4 separate regions of the Homo sapiens genome follow, and regions 1, 3 and 4 are each linked to region 2. Evidence: fine-mapped QTL for protein levels in blood plasma. A gene starts in region 2. Each other region holds a variant in brackets. All regions are shown on one strand. Distances are from middle to middle.

Region 1 (5,000 bases), 62 kb before region 2:
TTTATAATTCAATGAGAATGACTCCACACTCTTCTCCAAAGCGCCCATTATTTTTAGTTTTTCGGTGCGCGACTCAACATAAAGACCTGTGGCTCTTATGAGCTGCCTGTTTTTAAATGGTGCAGTAGTTTCAGTTTCCATTTAATAAGTTCCCAGATAACAAATGGAGAATGGGAAGAATCTTCTCAAGGTCACAGTGAAGGTAAAAATAAATTATCTCCATCACTGAGAGGCTTTCTTCAGGTTTTCTATCAGCACTACAGAGTCGGTTTCCTCCTTGGTTTGCTTCTCATAGATGTCGTACTTCTTCCAGTGCTAGAAGGGAGGAAAAAAACACATACACAATGACATATCTAAACAGTGTTCTTTCCCTGAGTACTTAGTGCCAATGCTTATTTTTAGGTTTGTGTGGATGGAACCGTAGGGGTATGATTTCCTGTTTTTTTTTTTTTTTTGACCTAAGAATCTTTATCTATCTGAATGATTAATGAAACAGAACAATCAGGAATTAATATTAAATGGAGGTGGGAATCATGAGATAGTTACATGATGTACAATGACTATCTCCAGAAATAAACAAATTTGGACATTTCCACCACTGGAAATAAAATCTATTAAGAAGAATAAAAGGATGTCATGCCGTTCTTACTCCAACTGTTTTGCTGAGACCTTTATTACCTTTATTTTCTTAATGCTCATTGCTCCAGAGACATAATAGGTTCAAAAAGTCAAGTAGCATTGAGATGAATGGTAAAACATAAGATGTTCCTAAAGTCTTACTGCAATCGAAATTGCCGAAAGACCCTATATTAAGAGCTTCATCTAACATCATTTGCTAGAACAGGAAATTACACATAAAGCACACTTATCTTGAACCCAATTCAAGCATGTCTCTTATGGTAAAAGCCAATATCCTGGTCCTTGCCTTTTTTTTACTTTTACTTGTAAATCAGAGGAAAGGGTGAAACATGAGCTCGGTCCTCTCATCTGTAAAATAAAGTTGTTATACTAAACCAGGGGTCAGCAAACTATGGTCCACAGGTCAAATCCGGCTGAATGCTGGTCTTTGTTTCATATTGCCTTCACCTGCATTCATGTTATAATGGCAGAGTTGAGTTGTGACAGAGACTGAATGGCTTGCAAAAACAAAATCATTTATTATCTGGCCCTTTACAGAAAAAAGTCTACCAAACCCTGCATTAGGTTATGTCTAAGCTCGTTTTCTGCACAGATGTTCTTAGAAAAGAAATGGAAAGAAGAAAAACAGAAACAAGAGCTGCCTCAGGTTGTGCAACTGAAGATGGACTGGGCAAGTTAAGAGATGAGGGGATGAGTTGGGAAACACTGCTCAAAATATGCAAATTATTCTAAACAAATTATATAACCCTGACACACCTACTAGAATGGCTAAAATTAAAAATACCGACAATTCCAAGCGCTCATAAGAACGCAGAGAAACTAGATCTCTATGTATTGTTGGTAAAAATAAGATAGTGCAATCATTATGGAAAACAGTCTGACACTTGGTTATAAAATAACACATACACTTACCACATGACCCAGAAATCCCACTCCCAGGTATTTACCCAAGAGAAATGAAAACATGTCACACAAAGACTTCTACATGAATGTTTATAGCATTTTCACTAATAATAGATTAAAAACTAGATACAACTCTGATGTCCTTGAACAAGTGAATGGTTAAATAAACTGTGGTTACAACCATATTATAGAATACTGCTCAGCAATAAAAGGAAATGAACTACTGACACACACCACAGTGTGGATGTCTCTTAAACACATTATGCTGAGTAAAAGAAGCCAAACTCAAAAAGCTATGTACTGTGTGATTTCATTTATAGGACATCTTGTAAGACTTTAGGGACAGAAAACTGATCAGTGTTTGCAAGGCGATTAACAGAGGGGGTTGACTGCAAAGGAC[T/C]ACAAGATAACTTTTAGGAGATGATGGAAATATTCTATATTTTTAATGGAGCAGTGGTTACAAAATTGCATATATTTGCTAACATTCTTCTAACTGAACACTCAAAAAAGAGTAAATTTTATTGTAAATTACACCTCAAACTTGATTTTAAAACATGTGAAATGTATAGATTTCTAATAAAAACAATTTGAAAAAATTATATAACCTTGAAAAAATGGCTTATTTAATAAATGACACTAAGACAAGTGGGTAATATAAGCATTTGAAAACAATGCTAAACCCTACCTCATAGCCTACATGAATAAATCCCTGATGGATTAAAGATCTCAATGTTAAAAAAAATCAAATAAGTACTAGAAAAATATGTAGAGGAACAACTATATAAATCTAAGGTGGAAAGGGCTCTTTACACCTAAAAATACAGGAAGATTTGACTGCATAAAAAAGGAAAAACCTTTTGTACATCATTAATCACCCTAAATACAATACAAAGGAAAACATGGATAAGAAGCCAGAGGGTTAATATCTAATACGTAAAGAGCTTTACAAACCACCAAAAGATGAATACAACAAGGAAAAATGGACGTGGAACAAGAATTTCACAAAAGAATTAATTCAAGCCAATAAACTTGGGAAAAAGTACAAAACCTGACTGTAAAATTAAGACGCTCTTTTCTCATCTATTAACTTGGCAAGAATTTTAAAATTAGGTAATATCATATTGGCAAAAGTATGGTCAAACAACCAGTCGAACATACTGCTGGTAGGTATATGAACTGGCACAACTTAGTTGTAATCTATGCTTCTTATGAAAAAATTTGTTTGTGCATTTTAATGCCCCAGTTTCCTTAACACAAAGGAATCATACTCTCCATATGTAACCTGGGTGTTTCACCTAACAGTGTATGTTATATTTTTATACATCAGTAAAAGTGATCTACCTCATTTTAACCTCTACATAATATTTCATTGCATGAATGCACCATAACTTATTTAGCCAGTTTCCTTAATGGGAATTTAATTTGTACAACCTTTCTGGATGACAATTTGTCAATACAGGTAGAATATCCCTTATGCAAAATGCTTGGGACCAGAAGTGTTTCAGCTTTTGGAATATTTGCACTATATACTTACCAGCTGAGCATCACTAACGCAAAAATCTGAAATTCCAAATGTTGCAATGAACATTTCCTTTGAACGTCATGTTAGAAAGTTTCAGATTTGGGAGCATTTCGGATTTTAGATTTTCAGATTAGGAATACTCAGCCTGTATCAGTCAAAGAGTTTAAAATACATATACCCTCCCCCTTGATCATGCAATTTGGCTTGTAACAATTTATCCTAAGACAGTAATAAAATATTAATACATATGCTTATACTTAGCTGTGAAATGATGCCTATACAATGAAATTTAGGATTCATCCAAATGCCAATAGGAATTTTGTTAAGTACATTATAATATGTGCACACAATGGAATATTATTTAGCCACTAAAAACTATATTATAGGGGACCAGGGTTGACTAACTTTTCCTGAAAATGGCTAGATAAGAAGTATTTTCAGCTTCGGGGGCCATATAGTCTCTGTGCCTATAAAACAACTCTGCTGTTGTAGCATGAAAGCAGCCACAGACAATATATAAATGAATGGGCCTGGCCAACGAAACTGTATGACACTGAAATCTTAATTTCATGTGCCATGAAATAGTATTCTTACATTTTTTTCCCAACTATTTAGAAGCACAAAAACCATTCTTAGGTTAAAGACTGTACAAAAACAAGTGGCAGGCAGAATTTGCCCCTTGGTCTATAGTTTGCAGAAAAATTCTGCGAAGAAGATGGTGGTAGCAGCATCGTTTTTGAATATTCCCAAATATCACCATAAAAAAACACAAGTTGGAAATATAAATAGGAAAGTGTTGCGTGAAGTCAGGGACCCCGAACGGAGGGACCTGCTGAAGTCATGACAGAAGAATATAAATTGTGAAGATTTCATGGACATTTATTAGTTCTCCAAATTAATACTTTTATAATTTCTTACGCCTCTCTTTACTGCAATCTCTGAACATAAATTGTGAAGATTTCATAGACATTTATCACTTCCCCAATCAATACTCTTATAACTTCCTATGCCTATCTTTACTTTAATCTCTTAATCCCGTCATCTTCATAAACTGAGGATGTATGTCGCCTCAGGCCCCTGTGATGATTGCATTAACTGCACAAATTGTTCATAAAGCATGTGTGTTTGAACAATATGAAATCTGGGCACCTTGAAAAAAGAAAAGGATAACAGCAATGTTCAGGGAACAAGGGAGATAACCATTAGGTCTGACTGCCTGGAGCCGGGCAGGACAGTCATATTTCTCTTATTGCCAAAAACAGGTACGAGAAATATCACTGAATTATTTCCCCAGTAAGGAATATTAGCAATTAACAGCCCTGGGAAAAGAATGCATTCCCAGGAGGAGGCCTCTAAAATGGCTGCTCTAGGAGTGTCTGCCTTATGCAGTCATAGATAGAGATGAAACACGCCCTAGTCTCCTGCAGCACCCTCAGGCTTATTAGGATTAGGAAATTTCTGCCTAGTAAATTTTAGTCAGAATGGTTGTCTGCTCTCAAACCCTGTTTCCTGATGTTTATCAATGACAATGCATGCACAGCAGGACCAGGAACCAGGCGAAATTCTAGTTTCGCCCTGGCCTTGTGACCTTGCCCTGCCCATTTGCCTTGTGATATTTTGTTGCCCTTGAAGCATGTGATCTCTGTGACCCACACCCTATTCGTACACTCCCTCCCCTTTGAAAATTGCTAATAAAAACTTGCTGGTTTTACGGCTTAGGGGGCATCATGGAACCTGCTGACATGTGATGTCTCCCCCAGACATCCAGCTTTAAAATTTCTCTCTTTTGTACTCTTTCCCTTTATTTATCAGACCGGCTGACACTTAGGGAAAATAGAAAAGAACTTACGTTGAAATATTGGGGGCTGGTTCCCCCAATAGGAAAGTAAATCCAAAATCTACCAACACAAGATGAAATCTACAACAAAACAAGATG
Region 2 (5,346 bases):
ATCCCAGTCATCCAGAAGATCTAGCTCAAGTTTTACCTCTTCCATAACACTACCAACCGTCAGCTTTTTCTCTTTTGAATGCCTATAGTACTAGTTGTTTGGACCACACAGCCCAGCCACTATAAAGCCAGTCTCCAATGTAGTATCATTCGCTTCTTTTTTTGTTTTGAGACAGTCTTGCTCTGTCGCCCAGGCTGAAGTGCAGTGGCCTGATCTTCCCTCACTGCAACCTCTGCCTCCCAGGATCAAATGAGTCTCATGCCTCAGCTTCCTGAGTAGCTGGGATTACAGGCATGTAATCCCACACTCGGCTAATTTTTGTATTTTTAGTAGACGGGGTTTTGCCATGTTGGCCAGGCTCAAACTCCTGGCCTCAAGTGATCCATCTGCCTCAGTCTCCTAAAGTGCTGGGATTACAGGCATGAGCCACTGCACCCGGCCTAATATAGTATCATTAGCTTCTTAACAAATGGCTTGCACATACTTTCGTGGGTCCCAAGCCGTCCTGCCCTGCTACCCTGGGAGGTGTCCAGCTAAGGACTCTCGTCTTTTCTGCTGGGCAGAAGCAATGAGTACAGTGGTTAAGGGCATGGCCTCTGGAATCAGGCTGCCAGGGTTGGAAACCTAGCTCTTCCACTTTGCCAGGTATGCGAATTTGGGCAAGGGTCTTGGTCGCACTGTGCCTCAACTTTTTCGTGTACAAAATGGGACTAATAACAGCACCTACAAGTTATATTATTGGTAAAGATTAAATGAAATAGTACAAGTAAAGCAGCTAGAAAACTGCTGGGCATAAATGCTATATACATGCTAGTTATAATTAAGACATGCCACAATGTGGGCCATTGAGTGGGACAGGTTAAACTAAGCTAGTAATCTAATCACTTTTATAAACACTCTGAGGATTAGAGCTGGAGGAGCTCTTAGAATTTATGCAGTTCAACCTCCTCATTTCACAGATGAGAAAACTAACTGCAGCACAAAAGAGAGGAAATGACCAGCCCAGAGTCCCACAGGTGGTAAATATCAGAACCACTAAAACTCAAGTCTCACTGGAAACATCTAATTTTTTCCCACCATACCTCAATGCAATTCTATCAATACTTTTAATGGGGAAAGAAGTTTGTTTTCTAAATAAGCAAGCTAACGACAAACCATTGTGACAGGACTGATGAAGTTGGGAGTTGCCAGTATTCTCTAGATGGCCAGCTGTTGTTTCAGGTGTGTGTGGGAGTGAGTCTGTAGGAGGGAGGGTGCTGGAGTGGCACTGTGAAAATCAGGAGACTAATGAGACGGGTAACTTTAGACAAGTTCCTTCCCTTCTCTGGACTGCAATGTCCCCATATGATTACGGAAATCAGGTGTACCCAACTAAACTAGAGGCCCTTTTGGGGCAAGAATTTTGCTATACACTCTCAGGTTCTAAGTCAACCTAGAGGGCCTGACTCAGTACTAAATAAGGCAGACACCTGAATAATTATTGACTGACAAGCTTCAAGTCTCCCTCAGGTCTCTACTCAAATGCCACCTTTCAGCAACATTTGTTTTCTTCTCGATCCACCCTTTTTACAATGGCAAACCCCTTCCCACCTGCTCTGTTTTTCTCTACTTAACACCCTCAGACATATCATATATTTTACCCCCACCCCCCGATATGTCTGAGGGCAGGCACCTCATCTGTTTTGCTCACTGCTGCATCCTCAGCCCCTAAACACTGCCTGGCAGCATGTATTTTATTGACTGAATCCATAGAGGGCATTAAGGTTTCCTAATCAACATTTCAACTTGGATTTCAAAGCACATTGGTAAAAATGCAATAAGCATATATAAGTGTTTGTGTCAATGTGATAATAAAACCTATACAGTTTGGGGCTTTCATTGTCACCAAAAACGTCCAGAAGGCCATTCCTTCCAGGAGCTGCTCCTAAGGAAGTCATTAACTCCCAATTTTTCACAACTGCCAGGTTGATTAACTAGAAGTTACCAAACAGGGTGAGGGATATACACAACTCTCTGAAGTATCTTTGCAACTTTTCCATAAATCTACAATTACCCTAAAATATAAGGTTTATTAAAGAGAGTGGGGTGGGGGGAGCATCTGCCGGGATGCTATTCTGGATTTCCCAAAGGATTTCTTCGACGCCAGAGGAGGTCATGAGCGTCACGTCCTTTTTCAACAAGGACTGAGATGTTTAGAGGTTCCCTTCAACTTCCACTCGCAAGAGCCACCCTTAGACAGTGAGGATTGGCGCGGCCTCGGGCAAAGAGCCCCGGCGCGTTCTCAGCTCGCCTGGACTTCGGTCGTGGTCCCCGCCGGCTCTGGCGCCTCATTTCCTCCCGGGCTCACAGGCGACATTCCGGGCGCTGACCCACGGCCCTCTGACGCCGTGGGCATGTTTCGGGCCCCCCGCCCCCGCACGCCTGGACGCCAGCCTCCTGGGCTCTTCCCACTACAAGTCGCAGCCCTCTTACTTCGCTGCCGCCACCTCCGCCGCACCCGGAGTTCGGGAAAACCCCGCAGCTCCCGGGTCCCACCTCGAACCGGCCCCAGTACCGGGCCCCAGAGATCCCGCGCGGGAAGCCGCAGCCGCCGAGCGCGGGGCCTCGCGAGGGCAGCCCCCAGCACCCACCCCAGCTTCGGCCCTCCGCCCGGCGTTGACCTCCGGGGCCTTTCAGCCGTGACCCTCACCGCCCTCAGCCCTCCGGCCGCCCCTCGGGCCCCGAGGGTCGCACTCACCCGTAGGCGCGGCGCCCCCGCCCCCGCCCCCGCCGCCGGCGCAGAGCAGCAGCGCCCACAGCCCGCAGAGCCGCGCCGGCCACTCCATGCAGCCTCTCGCCTCGGAGCCCGGCCGGGCTGGAGCCTTGGCAGTCCCCGCCTCCTTCGCTCCCTCTTCCACTTCCCGGCTCCGCCGCCCTGGAGGCTGGGGGCCGGCGCAGACGGGAAGGGCCGCCCCGCCCACCGGCCTCAGGTAACCTGAGCCGGCGAGAGCGGCCGGAGGAGGCGGGGCGGGGCGCCGGCGGCTCTGGCGGCTCTGGCGGCTCCTACGGCTCCCAAGGCTGGACACCTGGCCCACCCGCAGCTCCCGCGTCCGGTCTCTGACCGAACAAAACTTCTTCCACCACGTCGCCGCCCACTCCGGGCGCTGCCTGGGCCTCCTCCCTCCGCGTGGCGGAGCCGGCGTCGCCGCTGCCAGCACACTTGCGGGGCCTCGGAGGTGCTAGGGGCTGTGCCCTGCTGGACACCAGGACAGAGTCATCTGCGGAAAAGAGCCTTGGCCTGGGAGTCTGGAGACCTGGCTTCCAGCCCTTGACCTCTGAGCCCTTGTTTGCTAGCGCTGACTCCAGGGTTAGTAATACCAGCCCTACTTCACTGGGTGGAGTTGGGGACACTGGCAGTACTGTGCTTTGTGAAAAGGACAAAGGGCATATTTGAAAGCTGGCAATACATAATGTTGATTTTAAAAGGAACATTCCAAACATGAGGGAGGATACCATACGTGCATTTTTTAAAGCACACGACAAACTTTCTACATATTTTTCAAAGGGATGGGAGGTGAATCGGAAGAATACACATTGATACTTGGGCGCCTATGAGGGTCAGTGAGGCTGGGAGGAAGGAAAACAAGAGTCCTTAGGCGTTTCCTGTTGCTGCTGTCAAAAATGACCACAAATTTAGTGATTTAACAGTTTTATTTTATTACAGTTCTGGAGGTCAGAAGTGACACTGAGCTTAAATCAAGGTGTGGGCAGAGATGTATTCCTTCTGGATATTCTAGGGGAGAATCTGTGTCTTTGACTTTTCCAGCTTCTAGAGGCTACCCACATTCCTTGGCTTGTTGCGGAACTACTCAGACCTCTGCTTCCCTTGTCGTATCTGACTCTGACCCTCTTACTTCCCCTTTTCCCTTATAAATACCCTTGTGATTAGATTAGGTCCACCAGATAATTCATAATAATCTCCCCATCTCAAAATCCTTGATTTAATCATAACTGAAAAGTCATTTTTGCTATGTAAGTTAACATATTCACAGGTGTTGGGGATCACGATATGGAATCATGGGAGGGGGACATTATTCTATCACCTTCTCCCAAAAAAGAATCATGTCTAGGTGGATGATGAGACCCATAATGAGGTGTATTTTGGCCGAATTAAGCCAATGCATATACCTGAAAACAGTTACAAAAAGTATAGCAATAAAAATGCTGATAATATACCTAGTCTAGACCCCACCCAAAGGGCACAGGGTTGTTTAACCTATTCACAACAAAGGTTCCACTCTTGGAATTAAGGCTCTCAAACTCAATAAATATTTATGAAATTGTTCCAGGAACTGTTGAAGACACTCACCAAAAGCAAGCTCTGCTAACAGAAAGCTGCAGTCAGTCTGAGGGGCAATGATAAGGGCAAGAACAAGGAATTATGGGATACAAAAAGGGTACCTTTTGGGAGGGAAGGAGCAAGGGAAGCTTCCAGGAGGAGGGCCTGCCTGTGCTGAATCTCAGGATGTTGATTCTTTTGGCTAACGGTTCAGAATAAATTCCAGAATCCAGGCATGGTGGCATGCACCTGTAATCCCAGCTATTCTGGAGGCTGAGGTGGAAGGATCACCTGAGCCCAGGAGTTCAAAACCAGCCTGGGTCTGTAACAGAGTGAGACCCCGTTCTCAAAAAAAAAAAAAATAAATCCTGGCTTGCATGTGTTATCGAACAAAATAATGTTTATGAAAACAGTTTGTAAAGTATCAAGGCCTGTAGAACTGAGAGATAGTATCATTATTTCTAAATCCCTCCCACAAATAGGTCAGCCACTGTGTATCCCAAGGCCTTTCCTCCACCACCACGGACATATACACTTGTTGACATTTGCTATAAACATTATACAATAAGTTTATAATAACGTTTCCAAAATGGTTATGTCATCTGCCTTTTAAGGAGTCTTTAGTTGGAACAGGAGCCCCTGGGGACTGGCTGAGTGCCATCATGGGCACTGCTTGGCATAGATTGACCAAGCGCTTAATAAAACAGTAATGGTAGCAAATGATTAGAAAAATAGGGATTGCAGCTTGTCATGAGCTTCCAGAAAAGCCCTGAGAATCTGAACATCGTGAGGAAAAAAAACAAACGGCAGTGTGGAGAGGGGAGAGACCTGATTTCTTTTCACCAAGATAGTTCCGGCCTGCTGGCCTTAAGACTATATTGTTACTTTCCTTTCTTCCCGACCCTGAACATCATGCAACGATTTTTCAAATTTTTGGAAGGGGGTGGAAAGAGTCAGGAATGCTGTTTCTTCAACATAAAACTTGTATTTGTAATCTCCGTGTAGTGTGATTCGAAGAGCGTCTTGGA
Region 3 (5,000 bases), 46 kb before region 2:
AAATAGGGTACACAAAAATCAATGTTCTAAGGGCATTAAGTTCTACTCTTGCCCATAGGTGGAGCACAGGGACCATCAGAATAAATGAATTACTTATACCCTATCATCTAAATAATATGCTACTCTACTTTTAACAGACCAGATGGGCGCTTGCTCTGTATAATTTTGAAAAGAATAATCTGAGAACAGGATACATTCCTCTGTTTCTTTTTCCTTCCTACTTCTCTCCATTTTTCAATCTTATAGCTTGCCTCCATCTCCCAGTGAGTGTCCATGGATGTGCCCCAGGATTCAGTTTTTTGTCTTCTTGTCTATCTCATTCACTTTATGAGCACTCCTTTCGGTCTTTAGGCTTTAAATCCATTCACATGCCGAGGATTCCCAAAATTAGATCTTCAGCCCAGACCTCTCCCTTCAACTCCAGATTCATGCACAAAATCGCTTATTTAACATCCTTATTTGGATATCTAATAAGCATCTCAAACTTAACATATGCAAAACTGAAGTCCTTATCTTTCCCTCAAACCCAGCTCTCCTCACAGCCTTCTCTGTCTCAGTACATGGCACCAGCATTCACTCAGTTGCTCAAGCCAAAAATCTAAGAGGTATCTCTGAATCCTTAATTACCTTCACACCTCCACAGACAGGCAACTAACAGCAAGTCTTATCAATTCTACTCTCAAAATATATACTATTTCTGACCACTTCTTGCTATCTCCATTGCTAACCCCCTAGTATAGGTTATCCTCATCTTTCTGCCAAAACACTGCAATGCCTCCGAACTACTCCATCGGCTTCCACTTTTGCCCAAGTCAGTTCTTCACTCAGCAACTACAATAATCCTTTATGACAGTAACTCAGACCATGTGCCTACTCTGCTCAAAACTCTCCAATGCTCCTCATCATGCTTAGAATAAAATCTCAGTTCCTTGCCATGGCCTGCGTGATGTGGTTGGCCAACCTCTGTCCTCCCTCGCTGCCACTCTCTACCCTGCACTCTCCACTCCAGCCAAACAAACCAAGTGCATTTCAGCCTTGGGGACTTTGCATTTGCTGTTCCCATGGCCTGGAGTGCTCTTTCCTCGAATATCTGAATGATTCACTCCTTTACATTACTGGGAGTCTCTCCTCAAATGTCACTTTCTTGGTGACATCCTACATAAAATGCACCTCCTATCACCTCCTAGCCATACCCCACTACTGTCAATTATACTTCTAAGTGAAATTATAGTATTTATTATTTATTTTGTGTGTGTGTGTGTATGTGCATGTGTGTATCTTTCCCTCTAGAATGTAGATGAGGACTTTGTCCTGTTCACTGCTGTAACTTTAGCACTTAGAACAGTACCTGGTTCACAAATAGGCACTCAAAAAATATACATATATAGAGAGAGTATATATATATGTTGAATAAATGTTGAAATAATGATAAAATATTGGTTCTGGATCCAACTTAATAACCTTATTTCAACCTTAGTTATTTACTACAAGAGCAAATAACAGTCCTATAATGAGATAGAGAAAATAAAATATTCTCAAGGAATGGATACCATACATTCATGACAACTTGATGAAGTTCTCTTTCCCACAATATTAAGTAGTAGCCTACTTTGCATTAATACCAGACAAGTCATTTTATTAGTAAAGGTCTCCATTTCTAAAACTTCATTCTAAGAACTACTGACTAACTTGATAGATTAGGCATTTGAAAGAGTATTATGTGAACATAGGACCTATTCAACAATCCTAAACACATGCAAAGGCAGCAGTGCTTGAGCAGGGAGCCCTGGAAAACTAATCCAACATGGTTTTCATTAGAAAGTGGGCATAGCGGCTGGGTGCAGTGGCTCATGCCTATAATCCCAGCACTTTGGGAGGCTGAGGAGGGTGGATCACTTGAGGTCAGGAGTTTGAGACGAGCCTGGCCAACATGGTGAAACCCTGTCTACTAAAAATACAAAAAATTAGCCGGGCGTGGTGGTGGGCACCTGTAATCGCAGCTACTCGGGAGGCTGAGGCAGGAGAATTGCTTGAACCCAGGAGGTGGAGGCTGCAGTGAGCCGAGATCACACCACTGCGCTCCAGCCTGGGCAACAGAGACTCCATCTCAGGAAAAAAAAAAAAAAAAGAAAAGAAAAGAAAGTGGGCGTGGTAATACTTCCTTGTCATGTCATACTCCCGAAAGCCACTTACAGGCAACATGCTTCTAATACACTGGGCAGACATAAAACACAAGCACTAAAAGTAATAACCACAGCAAACAGGCTATCAGAAACTGCAAAACCTGCCTGGGCAGCTACCTTACCTTTTTAGGTAAAGCAGGAGTACTATGATTGCACCTGCGACGATGACTGGAACAAT[G/A]AGTAACATGGTTATGTAGAGTGTGGAATTGCGCTTCTTACCTGGAGAATGAAAAGCAAACAGAAAGACTTGAGAAATAAAACCCTTTTAGTAATAAACCAAGCAGCAATTCTGTTAGCTAGTAAGATCACAAATATTTCTGCTCCCTCCCCCAACCTATTTTCCCAAGCTCTTCAATTATCTTATCTTCTGTTAAATTAATAGTTTAAAAAAAAAAAGTCCTCCTCTGGTGCCTGAACTTCCCTAGGCGAGCAAATACCTAAAAGATTACCTGAAATTAGGATATTTTTTAAAAGACAAACATAAGCTTTATTCTCTTTCAAAAACTCAGAGACTAGGACCTGGAACCATATTCATTAATTTAATCTGGATCAGAATCCCTTAAATTTGATGGTCTCATTTAAACTTTTGTTTGTTTGTTTGTTTTGAGACAGAGTCTCTCACTCTGTCACCCAGGCTGGAGTGCAATAGCACGATCTTGGCTCACTGCAACCTCCGCCTCCATGTTTCAAGAGATTCTCCTGCCTCAGCCTCCTGAGTAGCTGGGACTACAGGCGCACACCACCACACCGAGTTAATTTTTGTATTTTTAGTAGAGACGGGGTTTCCCTATTTGGGCCAGGCTGGTCTTAAACTCTTGACCTCAAGTGTTCTGTCCGCCTCAGCCTCACAAATTGCTGGGATTACAGGCATGAGCCACTGCGCCCAGCCACATTTAAAATTTTATAGAAATAGACTGACCATTCTAAAAATGACAAAATACATGTTGTTTTCAACTACATAGTAAAAAATGTAGTAAACTCTCTTTTTCAAAATAGAGGAGGGCTGGGCTAGTGAGCTCAAACATTCATAATAAAAATTTCTCTATGTACATAAAATAATGTTTTCATAGCCTAAAATCACCATACAAAAACTGATAATAAAATTGTGTAGTGTTCAGGAGTTGGAAAGCCAACACACTGGAATTACCCAAGTATTTTTTTGGTATCTGTAATAATGAGATAGAATCTCTTAAATCATAGTTGTCCCAGAAGATCTGAGACGGATGTCAGTGACATGCACATTGTCCATTGTTCAGTAACTTTCAGAGAACTAACAGACTAAACTATGTATACTATCCAATACAATCCAATATTTCTTAACTGATAAAAAAAAAACTTCAAGATCTTGTGCTGCTTTAAAGGAAGGAGTATAAACGAATGAGTGGTAACTGGAAAATAGCTATAATAGAAAGCAGGTACTGAAGAATTCTGTCTGACAAATACCAAATAACTGTTTGCTTTTAGCAAATAAACTGGAACATATCACATAGGGTTTTTTTTTAAAGTTCTTTTAAGCTATTTTGCCATGAAAGAAAGGTTTTTTTAAATAAAAATATTGCTTCTTAGAATAACTTTAAACATATTGATTGATGTTAGTCAATCGATAAAATCAATGGAATCATTTTAGCTAAGACTTTTAACATTATCTCCAAGATTCAAATAATGTTAAGATTCTAGTTTACATATAAGACTATATATACCTTAGCATTGTTTCAAATATGATTACTACAAATGTATCTCATTGGAAAACATAAAAAAATTTTTTCCAGATCCAAGAGAAAAGGTATGAATGAAGCCCTTTGTAAGTACGCACGTGTGCGCACGCACACACCCACACACACAGATTAAATGACAAAGAAGACTGAGCCAGGAGACATAGATGTGACTAGGGAAATTACTTTCCCTCAAAGATCCCTTCCAGCTATCTGATTCTACAGTTAAAAAGCATTCCCTCTGAACTGTACAAACTGGCCTCACATTTTCAAATTTCTACACAGTATCTGGTAAAGTTTGCCTGTTTGCTGTTATACTAAAATATCAAATAAATCGACACAAACCCTGGCCTACAAATCTGTACACCAACTAGTTTTCCAGAGATAGTGATTTTTTTTAATTTAATTTTTTTGAGACAGAGTCTCACTCTGTCACCCAGGCTGGAGTGCAGTGGCACGATCTCGACTCAATGCAACCTCCGCCTCCCGGGTTCAAGCGATTCTCCTGCCTCAGCCTCCCGGGAGCTAGAACTACAGGCATCTGCCACCATGCCCAGCTTATTTTTATATTTCAGTAGAGAGAGGGTTTCACCATGTTGGCCAGAGTGGTCTTGTACTCCTGACCTCAAGTGATCCACCCGCCTCAGCCTCCCAAAGTGATGGGATTATAGGCATGAGCCATGGCGCCCAGCCCAGAGATAGTGATTTTTTAAAAATTCATTCCACAAGTCATTAGAGCATACTATATTTAAGGCAGAGTGCCAGACCAAACCTGCAACATTATGGTGTCACTGTCCCTGGGAACAAATTACTATCTGAAAAACTGGACTCAGGTGACTGCTTCAGGCCCAACCAGGTTCAGGGTAGTGATTTCCAAATTTGAGAGAATACAGGAATCTCCAGAGGAGTTTGTTAAAACACAGTTTCAAGCATCTCACCCCAGCATTACTGTGTCAGAATCTCTGGGGTTGGTGCCTCCTCATCTATCTGCATATTTAACAAATATGTTCTCCCACACCCCTCCATGCCTCTGCAGATAATTTGTGGGTCTCACTCTCCATCCCAACCCACCCTCCCCACAAAGAAAAGAAAACCACTGTACTGT
Region 4 (5,322 bases), 76 kb before region 2:
ACTGGACTATCAGCAATAATAGGACAGAAAGTATGCACTGCACCTGTAGTCCCAGCTACTTGGCAGGCAAGAGGATCACCTGAGCCCAGGAGTTTGAGACTAGCCTGGGCAAAATAGTGAGACACCATCTCAATTTTTTAAAAAAGAAAAGAAAGCATGCTCTATTCTTTGAATCTACTACAGCATCTCGTACACGATCTATATTCGTCAAAAGCCTTCTTGAATGAATTAATAAAAGCACAAAGTGGAATAGCATAGACACTGATCATAGGAATGCTGCTCCCAGACTCCATGTTTCAATACTGCTGCTATGAATATGGGTGTGCAAATATCCCAAGACCCTGCTTTTAATGCTTTTGCATAAATACCCAGAAGTGGGATTGCTGAGTCATATGGTAGATCTATTTCTTTTTCTTTTTTCTTTTTTTTTTCTTTTTTTCTTTTTTTTTTTTGAGACGGAGTTTCACTCTTGTTGCCCAGGCTGGAGTGCAATGGCACGATCTCAGCTCACCGCAACCTCTGCCTCCCAGGTTCAAGCAATTCTCCTGCCTCAGCCTCCCGAGTAGCTGGGATTACAGGTGCCCACCACTACGCCCGGCTAATTTTTGTATTTTTAGTAGAGACGGGGTTTCTCCATGTTGGTCAGGCTGGTCTGGAACTCCCAACCTCAGTTGATCTGCCCACCTCGGCCTCCCAACGTGCTGGGACTACAGGCGTAAGCCACCGCACCCAGCCTAGGTAGATCTATTTCTAACTTTTTGAAGAACTACCATTCTGTTTTCCATGGCTGTTGCACCATTTCACAATCCCACAAATAGCACACAAGGATTCTCATTTCCCCACATCCACACCAACACTTTCTATTTTATGGGTTTTTTTTTATAGTGGCCATTCTAATGAGCGTGAGGTGATATTCATTCACTTTTATTGCTAAGTAGTATTCCATGATGTGACTGTACCAAAAATTGTTCAACCATTCACCCACCCATTGAAGGATATCTGAGTTTTTCTAGTTTTTGTAAATTATGAATAAAACCATTATAAACATTTATGTAAAGTTTGTTGTGTGAACATATGTTTTTATTTTTCTGGGATAGAGGCCCAACAGTACAATTGCTGGACCATGTGATAGTTGCATGTTTCGTTTTTAAACAAACTGCCACTCTTTCTCAGAGTAGCTGTACCATTTTATGTACCCACAAGAAATATATGAGTGATATGATTTCTTTGCATCCTTACTATTATTGAGGTGTTGTCATTATTTTTATTTTAGCCATTCTGAGAGGTCTGTAGTAATGTTACCAAAACAGCAGGAGTTCCATCTAGGTCCTGTTTTCTCACTGCACAGAAAGGCAAACACTGAGACAATGAGTATTGCCAAGGAAGAAGGCTTTAATCAGGTGCAGCAGCCAAGGAGACAAGAGATCAGTCTCAATTCCATCTCCCTGACCAACTAAAATTAGGTGTTTGTATAGCAGGGAAGAAGTGAAACCATGTGTGGGAAAACAGGAATTAGGGAGGGATAAGGAAGAGGAGTTGGTCAACAGGAAGCAGTTGGTTTGTCAGCCAATCAAGAAGGGTGAGGGATCTGGCTTCTCACTGTCCGGATGTGGTGATTTGGTGATTTTCAGATCCCGGATACTTTCTGGGAGGCCTGATGGTTTGTTTCCTGAGAAAGGAATTCAGATAAGACAAATGTAACTTTCTCAAGTTTTAAGACTGGAAGGATCAATTTCTATGTTTATTCAAAGAGATCAGAAACATCAGCTCTGTGGGACAATTGGGTTGGTTTCATAGTCACATGGTCTGTATATTTCCCAGTGGTATTCAAGCCAGCAACTTATAGAAAACTGCATGATCAAGTGTAAACTCAGCAGATTTACAAAGCACACACTTGACCACAGATAATTTTTCTCAACCTAACATTCAGACCCATAAGCCTATTTTTCCACCTTGCTTTAAAATTTTCAGTGCATTGTAAAATATCAGAAAAGGATTGCCCCATATTGGTCTTAATTAATCCATGCTGAAGTACTCTCTTTTAGTATCACATTTCCAATTTGTTTATATTGGTCCTTATCATGTGGGAAAAAATTACACAACACAGATATGCTCTGTACTACCATTTGCAAAAACATTCCGTAGACATATTAGAAGTTGGCATTTGTGTGTGTGTGTGTGTGTGTGTGTGTGTGTGTGTGTGTGTATGCATGGCTGTGTTTTTTTTCTGTTTTAAGGAAGACTATGTCTTGGTTGTGTGAGAACTTCTAAGCTTCAAGGCCAAACTTCAGTTTTCACTTCCTTCACAGATGTCTGACTACGCTTATAAAGAATTTCCAGAATTTGTTGGGCACTGTGGCTGACGCCTGTAATCCCAGCACTTTGGGAGGCTGATGCAAGTGGATCACTTGAGGTCAGGAGTTCGAGACCAGCCTGGCTAACGCGGTGAAACCCCGTCTCTACTAAAAATACAAAAATTAGCCAGGCGTGGTGGCGGGCGCCTGTAATCCCAGCTACTTGAGAGGTTGAGGCAGGAGAATCACTTGAACCCAGGAGGCAGAGGTTGCAGCGAGCCGAGATCGCACCATTGCACTCCAGCCTGGGCAACAAGAGCAAAACTCTGTCAAAAAAAAAAAAAGAAAGAAAGAAAGAAAGAAAAAAGAAAAAAAAGAGAGAGAGGAAGGAAGGAAGGAAGGAAGGAAGGAAGGAAGGAAGGAAGGAAGGAAGGAAGGAAGGAAGGAAGGAAAAGAGAAAACAAGAAGAATTTCCAGAATCCAATGGGATGCTAAACAAATTTTTAGTCAAAGCAATCTGGAAGGGAAAAAGAGCTACTTTGTGGCAGCAGGGCTGTATTCATTCCTAAATGCCAATGTAGTACGATTTTAAAGGCCAAACAATCATTTGTTCCCAAATTCTCACCCCTGTATATTACAAAGCATCATTATTTAAAAAATCACCGTGAGCCTTATTGGATCCTGATTCAAGCAAATTGTAGGAAAAAAAGACTTATGAGACAATTGGGGAAATGTAAACACTGACTAGATAATTGAGAATATTAAGCAATTATTGTTTAGTTTTAAAGTGTGATAATGGTATTGCAGTTTTTTAAAACAAAAAGGGTCCTTAGTTTGTAGAGATATATACTAAAGTATTTACAGATGAAATGATGTGATGTCTGGGACTTGCTTAAAAATAATTCGTCATGTAGGAAGTAGGAAATGGGTGGCAGTATAAATGAAATAAGATTGAC[C/A]ATTTTGATAATTGTTGAAGCTAGTTGATGGGTATATGACCATTCACTGTAACAGTCTCCTTACTTCTATATATGTTTGAACTTTCCCATAATATTTTTTTAATCCACCATAAAAGTGGTAGCATGGTTTGGGGAGGCTCCTTGTAATATGAATTTTATCCAGAAATGGTAACCCACAAACTTCTTAGCCCTCCTTGGCTACATTAGCAAAGATGAATTGATCAAACATCTTATGAGGCAGAGGCCACAAGGAACAGGAAATGAGGCAGGACAAGTCTGAAAAGAGGAAGTTAAGAAAGGCTTGGAACATGGACTCTTGCCAGAGTGGACAAGCTATTGCCAACCACTGAACGAAAGGGTTTGAAGTGTAGCAGCTGGAGAGAGGATGCTAAAAGAAAGTAGTAGCCTCCTTAGGGGGAAGGTGTCTTGTATATGCATGTTGGTGGGGGATAGTGGGGTGGAGCTTGAATGTTCAAGGCTGTAAAACAAACTCACCCTTTGATTAGAGCTATCTTTGTCTCCCTTTGGAAACATCATGAAAATAAGACATGTAGAACTGATTCTTAATCCAAATCTCAAGTCAAACAATAACTCAGAATAATTTTCTGTTTTTTCCCCCATTTTCAAATCTACAAGTCTTAGGTCAGCTGCTTGTTTTCTATAGCTGTTTCCATTATTTTCCCAAAACAATCAAAAGTTACTATTTTATTGATTGCGAATGTTAGACCTAAAGGAGCCCTTGTAGATCACTTACTCCTTTTTTTTCACAAGTGAGCAAACTGAAGCTCAGAGAAAGAAAGAAACTTGCCCTGCATCATACAGTACCTAGCTAGCACAGTGCTGGCACATGGTAGACACTCAATAAATATCTGTTGAATCCAGGGTTGATACATAACCTACCAAGTAATTATAGCCAGCATCTGACCTGACTGGTTGGTGCCCATGTCACATAGCTTTAACATCGCCCCCCAACTGAACAGATGAAGGAATGAAAATAAAGTAGTAAAGCCAGATTGTTCTTGACTTGCAGACATTCTTTTTCTGTAATTCTAGTTCTAGTCTTCATGGGGCCCTAAGTGGGCAGGCAGGGCCACCTTTGGCTGCAAAGCTTACAGAGAATCCAGGCCTCCTCTGGACTCGATGTTTGTTAATTGTCCATTAGCCTCCTCAGTGCTCCTAGGTACTGGCCAGCCTTATTTGGGGCTGCATAGCAGGCAGAGTGTACGGCAACCCTCACATGTTAAAGGTTTGATCTGCACTCTCATCCTAACAAAGTAATTAATTGGGGCTCCAAACTACCTATTTCACTGTCAGGGAGTGGATACCCAGCATTATTTTTCCAGTTCTCATCTACCCCAGGGATGAGGGGAGAGTGGAAAAAAGAAAAGAAAAAAGAAAAAAAATACTTTTAAGTGTTTGTAGAAGCATAAATAAGAATTAATGTTGCTAACTGGATTTATACCATAGAATTTTTTTCTAAAAACAGTATAATTGGAAAATGCCATGTCATTACAAATTCACTACAATGAAGGCAAATATTATAGTATGATATTGTAAACCAAGATTGTCATTTTCACATGAGGAGGGACAAGAAATTGGTTCCAGAATAACAGTATGTGCAACCACAACTACCATTTATTAAAGTTCACTGTGCTAAGCATTTTACATTTTATTTCACTGACACCTCACAGCAACGCTAGGTGGTAGGTCCTTTTATCAGCATTTTACAGATGAGGACTGAGCCTCAGGTAGATCAAGTTAAGAAAATCTCCCAAAAAGCAGAACCAAAAGACAAATAAAGGGAACATGGGAGAAAAAAGATACGAAAATTACAGAATCAGTCCAGGATGTCCAATGTACAACTAATAGGAATCCTAGAGATAAAGAAAACACAAGGGAAGCTATTGTGTGAGAAATAATAGAAAGCAATGTCTTAAAAATGAAGCATGAGATTTTAGATTGAAAGGGCTCACAAAGTCCAGCCCAGTAAATGGAAGAAGATCCACAATAAGGCATATCATTAAAATTTAAAACACCAAGAGAAAAGAGGCCAAGAGAAAACCTTGCAGATA

Alleles and levels. Positions count from the first base shown, and alleles are read on the strand shown. Strength reflects both the effect of a copy and how common the allele is.
As copies of C replace T in region 1, the plasma level of the protein whose gene starts at base 2,858 in region 2 goes up (strong association).
As copies of A replace G in region 3, the plasma level of the protein whose gene starts at base 2,858 in region 2 goes down (moderate association).
With allele C in place of A in region 4, the plasma level of the protein whose gene starts at base 2,858 in region 2 is higher (moderate association).

Evidence for each region. PIP is the posterior inclusion probability: the model's chance that the variant is causal. The UK Biobank Pharma Proteomics Project read protein levels with antibody pairs (Olink). The fine-mapping took linkage between variants from a reference panel, not from the people measured, so its PIPs are less certain.
Region 1: its variant is fine-mapped to the plasma level of the IL13RA1 protein (UK Biobank, PIP above 0.99).
Region 3: its variant is fine-mapped to the plasma level of the IL13RA1 protein (UK Biobank, PIP above 0.99). The variant lies in the coding sequence of IL13RA1. If it changes the protein, the assay may bind it differently, which can mimic a change of level.
Region 4: its variant is fine-mapped to the plasma level of the IL13RA1 protein (UK Biobank, PIP above 0.99).

The regions. Positions count from the first base shown.
Region 1 is chrX:118,787,077-118,792,076 of GRCh38, reverse strand. IL13RA1 (interleukin 13 receptor subunit alpha 1) reads right to left here. Exons shown (of 11, transcript NM_001560.3): 11 at 1-315. The coding sequence ends at 223. Among named protein-coding and RNA genes, the nearest start is that of ZCCHC12, 34 kb to the left of the region's middle. The variant T/C (reference allele first, on the strand shown) is at 1,943.
Region 2 is chrX:118,725,118-118,730,463 of GRCh38, reverse strand. IL13RA1 (interleukin 13 receptor subunit alpha 1) reads right to left here and starts at 2,858. Exons shown (of 11, transcript NM_001560.3): 1 at 2,738-2,858. The coding sequence starts at 2,825. RefSeq lists a silencer at 2,820-3,249.
Region 3 is chrX:118,771,281-118,776,280 of GRCh38, reverse strand. IL13RA1 (interleukin 13 receptor subunit alpha 1) reads right to left here. Exons shown (of 11, transcript NM_001560.3): 9 at 2,306-2,402. It also overlaps the pseudogene TMEM30BP1. Among named protein-coding and RNA genes, the nearest start is that of IL13RA1, 46 kb to the right of the region's middle. The variant G/A (reference allele first, on the strand shown) is at 2,362.
Region 4 is chrX:118,801,279-118,806,600 of GRCh38, reverse strand. It overlaps a transcript of IL13RA1 not described here. Among named protein-coding and RNA genes, the nearest start is that of ZCCHC12, 20 kb to the left of the region's middle. The variant C/A (reference allele first, on the strand shown) is at 3,251.